Linked DNA regions of Homo sapiens: region 2 is linked to region 1. Evidence: fine-mapped expression QTL. Tissue or cell type: unexposed skin. Region 1 holds a variant in brackets; the other region holds the start of a gene. All regions are shown on one strand. Distances are from middle to middle.

What was found. PIP is the estimated chance that this variant, and not a neighbour inherited with it, causes the effect.
Region 2: it holds the start of LRRC61, and the variant in region 1 is fine-mapped to the expression of LRRC61 in unexposed skin (GTEx, PIP 0.96).

Annotation. Positions count from the first base shown.
Region 1 is chr7:150,366,574-150,373,895 of GRCh38, forward strand. It overlaps REPIN1 (replication initiator 1), which reads left to right and starts at 2,249. Exons shown (of 3, transcript NM_001099695.2): 1 at 2,249-2,368; 2 at 3,098-3,295; 3 at 4,655-7,322. The coding sequence starts at 3,139. The coding sequence ends at 6,372. It overlaps REPIN1-AS1 (REPIN1 antisense RNA 1), which reads right to left and starts at 6,370. Exons shown (of 4, transcript NR_183429.1): 1 at 6,268-6,370; 2 at 4,505-4,582; 3 at 4,132-4,283. RefSeq lists enhancers at 1,723-1,782, 1,822-2,626, 2,627-3,432, 3,433-4,237, 6,765-6,884 and 1 more and silencers at 2,033-2,502, 3,013-3,162. The variant C/A (reference allele first, on the strand shown) is at 3,783.
Region 2 is chr7:150,321,141-150,327,301 of GRCh38, forward strand. LRRC61 (leucine rich repeat containing 61) reads left to right here and starts at 2,215. Exons shown (of 3, transcript NM_001142928.2): 1 at 2,215-2,420; 2 at 4,701-4,870. It overlaps ACTR3C (actin related protein 3C), which reads right to left and starts at 2,405. Exons shown (of 8, transcript NM_001164458.2): 1 at 2,329-2,405. RefSeq lists enhancers at 1,435-1,544, 1,595-1,654, 2,975-3,044 and a silencer at 2,265-2,584.

The sequences.
Region 1 (7,322 bases):
TTAAAACAAAACTTTCTCGCCGGGCACGGTGGCTCATGCCTGTAATCCCAGCACTTTGGGAGGCCAAGGCGGGCAGATCACGAGGTCAGGGGATCGAGACCATCCTGGCTAACACAGTGAAACCCCGTCTCTACTAAAAATACAAAAAAATAGCTGGGCGTGGTGGCGGGCACTTGTAGTCCCAGCTGCTCGGGAGGCTGAGGCAGGAGAATGGCGAGAACCTATGAGACGGAGCTTGCAGTGAACCGAGATCACACCTCCCTCTACACTCCAGCCTGGGAGACAAGCCAGACTCCATCTCAAAATAAATAAATAAATAAATAAATAAATAAATAAATAAATAATAAAATAAAAATAAAACAAAACTTTCTTATGCTCGCTTCAGCAGCACATAGACTAAAGCAAAACTTTCTCACATCAACAACTGAAAAGGTAGGCCGGATGCAGTGGTTCACATCTGTAATCCCAACACTTTGGGAGGCTGGGGCGGGAGGATCGTTTGAGACCAGCCTGGGCAACACAGTGAGACCCCATCTCTACAGAAGAAAAACATTAAAATAAAATAATTAGCTGGATGTGGTGATGTGATCCTGTAGTCCCAGCTACTCAGAGGCCGAGGTGGGAGGATTGCTTGAGCTCAGGAAGTCCTGGCTTCAGTGAGCCATGATAGTGCTACTGCACTCCAGCTCTGGTGACAGAGTGAAACCCTGTCTCAAAAAAAAAAAAAAAAAAAGTTAACAAGTACGAGGAAACACGTCTGCAACAAACATGACAAGTCTTTAATACCTGTACTTTATGAGTGCCCCCCAAACAATAAACCAACTCCCCAACTTTTAAAATGGGCAAATAGAAAAGTGGGCAAATGGACATAAACAAATTCACAAGAGAAAATAAAACTGGCAAAAAATAACCATGTGAAAAAACAATCCAGCTAACTAGTACTCTAAGAAATGCAAGTACAAAAGATGAGAAATAACCATTTCAAACTAAATTTTTTTTTTAAAAAAGTCTGTGTTGTCAAGTATATGGAAAATGGGCATTTCTCAGGGAAAACTAATACGTTTTCCTGGAAGATAATTTAGAAAACATTTAAAAAATATATTCCTTTTATACAGCCATAAATAATCATGTTTAAAAGAATATCTAATAAAATGGAAGAAAATTCACAAGATCGTGTTAAGTGAAGAAGGCAGAATACATCTTCGCAAGGCATTATTCCAATTATGCCAGACATGCCATGGATATACGTAGAGAAAACACCGGAGGCAACATACCAAAATATTAAATGTAATTGACTCTACGAGGTAAAACTGAGTTTTATGTTCCCCTATTTCCTATTTATGCAATAGATTTAAAAAGTATTTTTACGACTAATTATACAATTCAAAAATTGCCTGTGTTGAAAAGCATGAAAGTACATGAAATTGTACTACCCTGGAAACCCCAGGAAGTGTTTAGTTTGGAAAGCCAGGGCCACCTGCTAGTGGGTGAGTCATGGGCACAGGCTCGCACCTGCCACCGCAGACGCCACACAGGCTGCTGAGCCTTTCCAAGCGAAATGCCCCACGTGCGCCAACGGCCACCTCGGCCGTCGCCCCACGCTTGGCCCGCAGCCAGAGGAAGCCCAGCAACTTCTGCTCTTTCTTAATTTCTAGAAAAGAGTGAAGAGAGGCCTTTTCAAAGTTCGCAGGATCGGGCCTTTTTGTGCTCCACTTTGGAACAAATCGGAAGCTAGGGCCTTCCAGGTGCGCCACCGCCGTCCCGGGACCGCCGCGGCCGCAAGCGTCCGCACTGCGGCCGGGGTGCGCGGCCTGAGAAAGGCCCGGGCAACGACGCTCCGGGGGCTTGCCGGAGCCCTCTTTGAAGTCTCCCGACGGGCTCCCAGCCTCTCATAAGGCAGCTAAGGCCGAACACCCCGGTGACCATAGGCCAGCCACGCGGTCGCCCGGGGACGCGCGTGCTCCGCAGGGACAAAGGGTCGGGAAACTTGAGCTCCGGCCAGTCCCAGAGAAACCCGGGCTGGTGGTCGCCATGGCAACGGAGTCCGACCCTCCGAGGCCTGCCGCCCTGGCGCGGCAGTGGCTTGAGTGACCCGGCCCGCTCTTGGCGGGGGCGCCCGCGCCCCGGCCCCGGCAGTCCCTCCCCGCCCCCAGGCCGCGGCCGCGGGAGCCGGCGACTGACCCTCGGCAGCTCCTGTAGTCACGTGGCGCTGGGAACCCGGCGGGGGGAGGTTGGGGACGGGCCTGGCAGTTGTGAACTCGAACCTGCCGCTGTCGCCGCGGCGGGGCGGGGAGCGAGAGTGGGCCGCGGAGGCCGGCCTTCGGGCTCCATGGACGGGCGCCGCGTCCCTGCACAGCCCGCCGCAGAGGTACGGCCGGGGCAGGGGCGCGGGGCCACCGCGGGCCCGCGGGGGGCCGCTCCACCTGCGGGGCGCGTGACCGTGAGTGTGCGCGACCGTGTGTGAGTGCGCGGGGGGGGACGCTGCTGGATCTGCGGGGGTGGGGGAGCGCACCTGCGCACAGGCTCCGCGAGCTGCGCCGTGCGTGGGACCCGAAATGGCTCACTCGCAAGAACGGGACCCGTGTGCCCGGGAGCGTGGACGGAGGACACGCATCAGTACAAAAGGGCGGTGTGGGGCTTCTGCCACCCGCGGCCAGCCGCGATGCGGAAGGGGATTCTGACGGAGTCGTGGTCACACCAGCTGGCCCTGCGCAGCCCCATGGGAAATAGGCCTGGAATTCCTGTCGGGAGGAGGCTGGGGGAAGGGGAGCCAGCAGGGATTCCAGAGTTCCTGCCATAGGCCGGCCTTTGGCCATCAGGGAAAGCCCAGACTCTGGCCACAGAATGGAGAATTCGTTCCGTGACCTTACCAGGGAAGAAAGTGACCCCGAAAGACAGCAGTGTGCTTCCTTGTTGAAGGGGCACATTCATTTATTAATCCAATGTCCATTAAGGTCACTCTGCCAGGCAGGATGTGGGGCTTATGGCTGGTGCGTGTGGCTTTGTGGGGGGAGGGGTTGTGGCTGGTGAGGACACAAAGCTGACTGCCCTAGAGGAGCTCAGAGCCTCACTTCTGTTTTCTCTTCCCTCCCCACAGGTAAGGCTGGCCTCTCTGCAGTCAGAGGTCTGAGCTCTGCCATGGGGATAGGGGTGTCTTTATTACTGCAGTTTTCTCTAACACCTGGGGGCTACCGGAGTGTGGGCCGAAGCAGGCGCTGCAGCCGCGGAAGTATCCCCAGGAACATCCCCAAGAGGAGCTGGAAAAAGCCTCATCCCCAGCTCTGCAGTCTCCAGGGTAGAGTCTGGCCTTTGCTGTGCTCCCAAACCACGCCACAACAGGGGTGCACGGGCGTCCCCATCCCGGCGGAAGGAAATGGCCCTTTCTCATATCCTGGGGTCTTCCCTGTGCACAGTCTGACACTGGGAATGAGTGACCTTTGTGTTCCCTGAGAAGAGAGAGTGCGCTCTAGGGAATTTAGAAGGATGTGTCTGGAGCTTGTGAGCAGGCACAGAAGGGCCCTTAGGAGCCTAACTGCTTCCTTCCTCCTTCCGCGGAGGAGGCTCCTGTGCAGGAATCTGGGCTCCCCTGAGCTGTGGAAGAGCTGAACATGGGGCAGCCCCTGGCGAGGTTGGGGCAGGACCGGGCAGGGGACTGAGATTGCAGTCTCATCTTCCCTCCCCTTCTATTGCCCCAGTAATCTCCAGCACCCCGAGGGAGGCAGAGCCGGTGATCAGGCCCCGAGGGCAGCAGGCTGTGGGTGTTCCTTGGATTCAGGGAGAGC[C/A]TTCCTTCCTGCAATGTCCTAATTTGTGTGGGTGGAAGAGGGCAGGCGGGCAGAATGGGGGCACAGTCTGGGCAGGCGGTGGTCTGGCGTTAGACTGCCGGGAGTAGCACCCAGGGCTCTGCTCCTGTTCCCCGAGAAGGGCTGTTCTCACTTGTCCTCCAGCCTCCTACGGAGACTGCAGTTAGTGATGCTGAAAGTGCCTCCCCTGTGGGGCTAGGAATGAAAAGCTATAGACACCTTTTTCTCTGAGATCTTTGCAAACCCAGGCGCTTTAGAGGAAAGAACACTGGCCTGGGAGTTTAAAGACCTGTTCCCTAGTCTTGATTCTGCTGTTGGCTTACTGTGTCACCTTGGGCAGGTCTCGTCATCTTTGATGTCTCACAGTTGCTTCATCTGTTAAACAGGGAGCTCAGTGTCTGTTTGTCCAGCTTCTCAGAGTTGCTGTGCAGCTCGGATGTGGCATAGGAAACAGCAGACACAGGGAGAGGGCAGCATAAGGCACTGTAGGGAGCAGTGGCCACATTTTCTGGTGAGTCCTGTGGCAGGAATGTTTGTGCATTCAGCACTGGAGCATTTACTCCCTGTCTGACACTGGGGTAGCTGCCATGAGGGGGATTCTAGTATCAGAGTCCCTCCCTTCTGGAAGTTTCCAGGGCAACAAAGACATAAGACAAACATCCTTGAAATGTTATCTAAAAACCCAAGATTGAAATAATACATACCACACAAGGAAACAGGAGAGTAGTCTAGCTCCATGTCCGGGGCTCTAGGGGTTCATAGATGGCAGCTCCTGTCCGGGGCTGAGGTTGGGAGGGGAGAAACAGGGGCAGAGTGAGTTGGTCTCTGGAGTGACTGTGCTTTTCCACCCTCAGCAGAGGAAGAACCGATGCTGGAACGTCGTTGCAGGGGCCCCCTGGCCATGGGCCTGGCCCAGCCCCGACTCCTTTCTGGGCCCTCCCAGGAGTCACCCCAGACCCTGGGGAAGGAGTCCCGCGGGCTGAGGCAACAAGGCACGTCAGTGGCCCAGTCTGGTGCCCAAGCCCCAGGCAGGGCCCATCGCTGTGCCCACTGTCGAAGGCACTTCCCTGGCTGGGTGGCTCTGTGGCTTCACACCCGCCGGTGCCAGGCCCGGCTGCCCTTGCCCTGCCCTGAGTGTGGCCGTCGCTTTCGCCATGCCCCCTTCTTAGCACTGCACCGCCAGGTCCATGCTGCTGCCACCCCAGACCTGGGCTTTGCCTGCCACCTCTGTGGGCAGAGCTTCCGAGGCTGGGTGGCCCTGGTTCTGCATCTGCGGGCCCATTCAGCTGCAAAGCGGCCCATCGCTTGTCCCAAATGCGAGAGACGCTTCTGGCGACGAAAGCAGCTTCGAGCTCATCTGCGGCGGTGCCACCCTCCCGCCCCGGAGGCCCGGCCCTTCATATGCGGCAACTGTGGCCGGAGCTTTGCCCAGTGGGACCAGCTAGTTGCCCACAAGCGGGTGCACGTAGCTGAGGCCCTGGAGGAGGCCGCAGCCAAGGCTCTGGGGCCCCGGCCCAGGGGCCGCCCCGCGGTGACCGCCCCCCGGCCCGGTGGAGATGCCGTCGACCGCCCCTTCCAGTGTGCCTGTTGTGGCAAGCGCTTCCGGCACAAGCCCAACTTGATCGCTCACCGCCGCGTGCACACGGGCGAGCGGCCCCACCAGTGCCCCGAGTGCGGGAAGCGCTTTACCAATAAGCCCTATCTGACTTCGCACCGGCGCATCCACACCGGCGAGAAGCCCTACCCGTGCAAAGAGTGCGGCCGCCGCTTCCGGCACAAACCCAACCTGCTGTCTCACAGCAAGATTCACAAGCGATCCGAGGGGTCGGCCCAGGCCGCCCCCGGCCCGGGGAGCCCCCAGCTGCCAGCCGGCCCCCAGGAGTCCGCGGCCGAGCCCACCCCGGCGGTACCTCTGAAACCGGCCCAGGAGCCGCCGCCAGGGGCCCCGCCAGAGCACCCGCAGGACCCGATCGAAGCCCCCCCCTCCCTCTACAGCTGCGACGACTGCGGCAGGAGCTTCCGGCTGGAGCGCTTCCTGCGGGCCCACCAGCGGCAGCACACCGGGGAGCGGCCCTTCACCTGCGCCGAGTGCGGGAAGAACTTCGGCAAGAAGACGCACCTGGTGGCGCACTCGCGCGTGCACTCCGGCGAGCGGCCCTTCGCCTGCGAGGAGTGCGGCCGCCGCTTCTCCCAGGGCAGCCATCTGGCGGCGCATCGGCGCGACCACGCCCCCGATCGGCCCTTCGTGTGTCCCGACTGCGGCAAGGCCTTCCGCCACAAACCCTACCTGGCGGCGCACCGGCGCATCCACACCGGCGAGAAGCCCTACGTCTGCCCCGACTGCGGCAAAGCCTTCAGCCAGAAGTCCAACCTGGTGTCGCACCGGCGCATCCACACGGGCGAGCGGCCCTACGCCTGTCCCGACTGCGACCGCAGCTTCAGCCAGAAGTCCAACCTCATCACCCACCGCAAGAGCCACATCCGGGACGGCGCCTTCTGCTGTGCCATCTGTGGCCAGACCTTCGACGACGAGGAGAGACTCCTGGCCCACCAGAAGAAGCACGATGTCTGAGACGGTGGGCGGGGCCGTGTTGGCTGAGAGAGGGCTGGGGTCCTTCGTGGTGGGAGTCGCAGTGGGCTGGGGGTGCCTGCCTAGTGCTGGAGTAGGGGACAATGGGAATCCTAGAGGGGATGGAAGACGCGGGGAGTGAGCTGGGTGGGCCCTGCTAGCGAGAGAGGTCAACCCCGGTGGCCAGGGAACCCACTTCCAAGCGCAGGGACGCCGGCCTCCAGCTGGTGTGTGCTAAGGCTCCGTCCTGACTGCCCTGTGCCCTGGAAAAGCAGCAATAGCATCCGCCCCTTAGAGCCCTCTGGCTAGAGGAGCCACCAGTGGAAAGGAAGACCCTCCATCCTCTGGTATTAACGCCTTAATGCCCCTGTCTTTTACTGTAAGTTACTTAAGATCATTTTTGGAAGCAGGCGTGGTAGAGTCCTGTAAATGAATGCTCTGGGCTAGATACAGCTTGGAGAACCTGCTGGCCTTGTTAGACAGCACTTGGGCCTTTGCCAGCAGCAAGAGGTGAAGCGAAGCCACTCTTACCTCTCCCTTCCCCTCCCACCTGCCCCCTGCGTAGGCACCCAGACTTGGAGAGACCCGTCTGCTGTTAATACTTCCATCCTCTTCCTTCCCAAAGAGCAGATCCCAAGGCATTTACTCCTTGGTCTGTCTCGCTTTATCTGTCGCCCCTCCCAGCGCTGAGAGCCTCCCCTGGCTGTCAGCAGCACTGTGTCCAGGCTCTTGTCTGAACACCGCAGCCCCTCCTTCGCTCCTTCCAGAGCTCAGCATGTCACGGCAAGGACTGCCGCATTGGTGATGGAGGGCCAGCTGAGGGGAAGTTGCTGGTGAGTTTCCTTTTCTCCATTTCTAGCATATGGACACCTGGCCTCTGCTTGAGCACTTAGGTGACAGGAACTTCCGCACCTCCTGAGGCCCTGGATGATTCTAATTGTTAGAAATTCTAA
Region 2 (6,161 bases), 46 kb before region 1:
TCTCCCTAACCTTTATGTGTCCTCTTAGTAATTTTCCATCTGCTGACTTCCACCCTGTTGCTTAACTATAAATCTCCACCTGTCCTTGTATTTGATGTTAAGCCTGATTTTTTTGCCCCTATTGCATAATCCCTATTGCAGCTGTTCTTGAATAAAGTCTCTCACCTTAACAATTGTTTGAATAATTTTTCTTTTAGTGCCATTTCCTACTGTAACATGCTGTGTGAGTCTCAATTTTCTGATCCATATAATGGAGAAACTAATACTTCCATCTCCGAGGCATGGAGATCAACTGAAATTAAAAATAACTTGCATATGGCTGGGCAGGGTGGCACACACCTGCAATCCCAGCACTTTGGGAGGCCAAGGCGGGCAGATCACTTGAAGTCAGGAGTTTGAGACCACCCTGGCCAATATGGCGAAACCCCGTCTCTACTAAAAATACAAAAATTAGCCAGGTGTGGTGGTTCACGCCTGTAGTCTTAGCTACTTGGGAGACTGAGGCAGGAGAATCGCTTGAACTCAGGAGGTGGAGGTTGCAGTGAGCTGAGATCACACCACTGCACTCCAGCCTGGGCAAGAGAGTGAGACTCCATCTCAAAAAAATAAAAATAAAAATAAAAAACTTGGATAAAGTGTAAAGATAAAAATCACTATTCTTGGGCAGGGGTCCCAGCTGTAGCCCAAGCTGGAGAACTAGACTGGCTTGGCATTAATTTGCTTGGGGCAGGAGAAGGGTCATCTGAAAGATATGGGAAAAGCTGAGGTTGCCCCTGGGAAGACTAGGGAAGCCTGCCCCCGGGCCAGCCCCTTGAATATGTCCAACTGAGGAGGTGGAAAGAAGTTCAAGGTAGCCAGGGAGACAAAAGTTGTTCACTTTGGTGCACATGTGGAACCAACATGGGACAAACAGGCATTTTGTGCTCGTCCAGGGAACATGACTTCTTCGGCTCCCACACAATTTGTAGCTGCAGGAGTGGCAGAGCACCAGAGTGGATGCAGGCCCAGATGTTCTCTGGGTTAGGTGTTAAGGACTTGTGGGAGTCATCAGGCAGCAGGCATTTGCCCCAGTGTCAGAGGTGTTTAAGCCAGAATTACTCCATCTTGAATAAGGGCTGGGTAAAATGAGGCTGCATTCATAGGAGGTTAGGCATTCTAAGTCACAGGATGAGACAGAAGGTTGGCACAAGATACAGGTCATACAGACCTTGCTGATAAAACAGGTTGCAGTAAAGAAGCTGGCTAAACGCCACCAAAACCAATATGGCAATGGGAGGGACCTCTGGTGGTCCTCACTGCTCATTATGCACTAATTATAATGCATTAGCATGCTAAAAGACACTCCCACCAGCAAGCACCATGACAGTTTACAGACGCCATGACACCATCATGAAATACTCTATATGGTCTAAAAAGGGGAGGAAGCCTCAGTTCCGGGAACTGCCCACCCCTTTCTCTGAAACTCATGAATAATTCAACCCTTGTTTAGCATATAATCAAGAAATAACCAAAAAATGGGTAACCAGTAGCCCTGGAGCTGCTCTGCCTATGGAGTAGCCATCCTTTTACTTCTTTGCTTTCTTAATAAACTTGTTTTCACTTTACTCTATGGGCTTGCCCTGAATTCTTTCTTGCATGAGATCCAAGAACCCTCTCTTAGGGCCTGGATCGGGACCCCTTTCTGATAACACCAGGAGACACCCTGGGTGGATTTCCTGAACCGACCGATAGATGAGCCTTCCACGCGGGAGACCTGGATCCTTATCGTCTTTGTGGCCCCTTCCATCTGCACGTGCGGACGAGGTCCGGGTCGCACTCGGGCGGTCAGCCTGGCACGCACAGCGCCGGCGTGCAGGGGGCCTTGGGTGCCACCGAGTCCGGGAGGAAATCTAGGCCGCCATCCGTCCGGAGACTGGCACCTGTGACCACCACCCAACATGTATTGAACAAGGGCTTGGAGGTCCTTTCTCTAAGGCCGCACCGATAAACGATTACCGACTGTTGACCTCACGGCCCCTTCGCTTCCGGCCGCACCGCCTCGCTGCCCACGCCTGCGCACTCAGGCACCGCAGGTAGGAGGAACGTACCAACTGCGAGGCGGGGGGTGCGCGCGAAGACCCCCGCAGGCTGCGCTTCCGGAAGTAACCCCTGGCGCATCCCGGAATCCAGAGCGCCCACTACGGCCTTTGGCCAGGCCCCCTGGGCGCGTTCCGGGAGCTCAGGCCTGCGGCGCTGGGAGAAGCACGCTGGCCAACAAGTTGGGTGGTGGGCACGCGGCCCAGGGGTCAGGGGCCGCCAGGCGGCGGGCGGCGGGGCTGCGGCTCTTACCTGCCGAGGAGGCGCCGGCTCTGCGGTGCGGAGTTGCGCCGGACTTCCCAGCTTGGCCAGTGGCTCCGCAGGCTGCCGGCTCCACCCCTCAGGTAAGCGGGGACTGGGCCGCCGAGGTTCAGGGAAGGGGGCGGCTGTCGGGGCCCGTGCCGGCCCCGGGGGGCCACCTGCTGGGCCAGCGGTGCCCTCGCGCCGAAACACACTGGGAGAGGCCAGAATCTTCCGGAACAGCCAGCCCTTACCCATCTCTCCCTCTGTGCCGAGAACTGCCCTGAAATACTGTGGTATTAATTAACTCGTTTAACACTAACAATCTCATGAGGCGGGTGCTGTTACTATTCCCGTAATGTAGACGAGGAAACCGAGGCGTGTGCTGGAGCAGGATCACGGCCGTGCTCAGAGACGGGCTCTGGATGCCATGCTCTGACTCCATTGTTAGCCCTAAGCTTCCAGAAAGTAGCAGAGTGCTGCCGTGTCGTTTGTAACAGATCTCACTTTGTGTCATTTTTTTTGCACAGTATGAAACCTAATGATGCATGATTATTATTTAAAACATCTTGCTTAGACTTTATAAGTAGTCAAATTTGCGTGTGGGACAAAACCCCAAAACATGCAATGGCTTGCTCTCCTCTTTTCCTTTCACACGTTCATCTCCTCCTATCCCTTTCTCTCACCACCTTTCAATCTTCTCACAGATGTTGTGGAGGAAGATGAGACTTGAGGGCCCAGCAGGTGCTTAAAATCCCCTGCCTGGTGGGGGTGGAGTAGACACTCTGTCCCCCTGCAGTGCTGGAGTTGAGAGCAGAGGGGCTGGAGAGGGACTGGGCGGAGTGAGAAAGGCCTGGCATAATCATGGAATGCCCAGGGTGGGGTTCTACTTCTCTTGCAGGCACAAGAGAAGTAGAAGAGTGGCCGCTTTCCTTCTGGGCACGCACTTGGGAAAAGGCTTGGTGAGAGCAGCGAGAAGAATAGGTCTAATTTCTTGAGCCAGTGTGCGGAGGTGCTTCCCAGCCCAGGCTAAGCCAGATCACTCAGCCAGCCGCTGGCTGCCTTTACAGATGTACGGCTCCCCGTGAGCAATCAACATGCCTGGCTCTCAGGCATAAGCTGCCTCACTTCCCTTCTGCACAGCACTCCAGGACTTGCCTGCTACCAGACCCATCCTACTTTCTCTGTCAGGAAAAATGAGAGTTCTTCCTGGTCTCTTGAGGCCAATCCCTTCCACCGCCTGTGCCCTGGATCCCTTTCTCCAGGAAGCTTCTCTTCCCTGTGTAGTTAGCCTCCCCGCTCTTCCCAGGTCACCTTCTCTCTGTTTAGGGACAGAGCCAAGCCTTTTCCCTCCCATCCCCACCTCCAGCATTCCCGGTTCCTGCTTCTCCCCCACTTCCTGCTGTACCGCCCACTGAAGGGACCTTTGACCCCGCTGACCACTGCTTTTGGAAAGTCTTTTCTTGGTTTCCCTAACTTCACTTTACTTTGGTTTTTCCTTGTCTCTCCCCTCTGCCTCTCAGTCACCTTTGAGATCTGCTCATCCTCTCACCTCCCTGTATTGTCAGCATTACCTGGGCAGCCCCCTCTGGTGTTTTCCTTCAGTTTCTCTAGAAACTTGCCTGAAGATTTGCCCCAAAATAGCCCACATGGACCTGTATGAGGAAAGAGGCTCACTGTGGAGGCGCTCTCCATCATTCCTCCTCTTCCACTTGAGGCTTAGGCATGGGCCACCTCCTGAACAGCTCTCCCCACAGTCTCCTCCATGCATTGTGCCATCACCCCGCCCTGCCGTCACCCCGGCCTGGCCCGCTTTCCCTTTTGCCTCCCAGGGATGTGCCTGCTTCCCATGTGGCCTGGCTAGGGCGCTTTCCTGACTGCTGCCCACATGATCGACTATGGGCAGGCGTGCAGCCCAAAAGGCCGTGCTTCAGCTTAGAAGCCCTTGGAATCTTGTCTTGTTGTGGTTGTAGGCCTCCAATGTGTTGTCAGCTGTGGTGATGTGTGTCACAAGTAACTTCTTTTTTTTGAGACAGGGTCTGGCTCTGTTGCTCAGGCTGGAATGCAGTGGTGCAATCACGGCTCACTGCAATCTCCACTTCCCTGCTCAAGCCATCTTCCTGCCTCAGACTGCCAAGAAGCTGGGACCACAGGCACAGGCCATCACAGCTGGCTGATTTTTTTGTATTTTTTTTGTAAAGACAAGGTTTCGCCATCTTGCCCAAGCTGGTCTCAACCCCCTGAGTTCAAAGCAGTCCACCCACCTTGGCTTCCCAAAGTGCTAGGATTACAGGCGTGAGCCACCACACCTGGCCACAAGTAACTTCTTAGTTATAAAGTACTGAAATTTATCAATGACTTTCTTTTTAAAATTTACGTTTTAGATTCATTTGGATTCAAGGTTGGCTCTCAACAGTGCCAGCTGCACTGTCATCCTAAAGTACTTCTGTGGAAGAGAACATGGTGGTGTCACTGTTGTACCAGTGATGACACAAAATCCCAGATCTACCTGACGGGCCTGCGAGGGTTGAAGATTGTGAAGCAATAGCCTAAGGTAAACAACACCTTGCAAGACGGGTCTAAGCTCTTCAGTGTAATAGACCCTGTTTCTCAGTAGGTCAGCCCGGGGGCCCCCCAGGGATCCCTCCCCGCCTCATAGCACCATACCCCACTTTCCCCCTGGTCTAATGATGAGCCCATTTCTAGGTTGTCGTCTCATCCTGAGCCCCAAGTGCCAGCCAGGCAGCTACTCTCCTCTGTTCATATCTTGAAGGCAGAGTGCTGGCTCATAGTAGACATTTGATGAATTTCTGTTAAATGATTGAGTGAATCAAGAGTATCTGCAGAGTATAGCATTTATGATGAGACAAAGCTAATTGGGAAACAGAACAAGATTGGTGTCCTGGGGTAACTGGGTAGGTCTTAAGATGAAGATTTTGGGGTGTGCTGGGTGCAGTGGCTCACACCTGTAATCCCAATACTTTGGGAGGCTGAGGCAGGGGGATTGCTTGATCCCAGGAGTTCAAGACCAGCTTGGGCAACATGGTGAAATCCCGTCTCTACAGAAAACACAAAAATTAGCTGGGTGTGGTGGTGCACATCTGAAGTCCCAGCTACTTGGGAGGCTGAGTTTGGGAGGATTACTTGAGCCCAGGAGGCAGAGGTTGCAACAAGGTAGATCATGCCACTGTACTCCAGCCTGGGTGACAGAGCAAGACCCAGTCTGAAAAAAAAAAAAAAAAAATACTTTGGAGGGTGACCCCGTTCTGCAGATGGCCTCTGGAGGCCTGGATGTTCACACTCTGGGGTTGCAGTTTCCTCAATCATGAAGTGAGAGTTAAGTCCCCTCCAGTGTGACATCCAAGAGCAGTTGTGGGCCCAGGACAGCAGCCTGTGTTTCCTTTGCAGCTTTACCTAGCCCCTACACAAGCGCCACCTTGCAGTAGGCCTTCAGTTCTTGGATTTATTGGTGGCTGAAAGTTCTTGCGAGATGGACTTGAAGTTGTTGCCACTTAACCCTTCTGAGGTTCTTCTGGCTGGGAGGAGCTCCTCTTTCTGGCCAGAGTCTTGCTTGAGCCTTCTTAGCCATCTCGTCACCTGTTATAGGCAGCCCTGCCATCTCTGGTGACCCTTTTTAAACATTACCCTGGTGAGTAATGTTTAGCATCACTCATTGTCAGATCTTTTTTATCTTTTTTTTTTTTTGAGTTTCAGTACCAGTAAGTCTTTATGTATTCATTATATCTTTCCAGGGAAAGGAGAAGGGAAGTGAAAAGGGTCAGCATGTGTGTTGCAAAGTGATTAGAAAATGGGAAAGGAAGTACCTGGTACAGAAAAATCAGCCA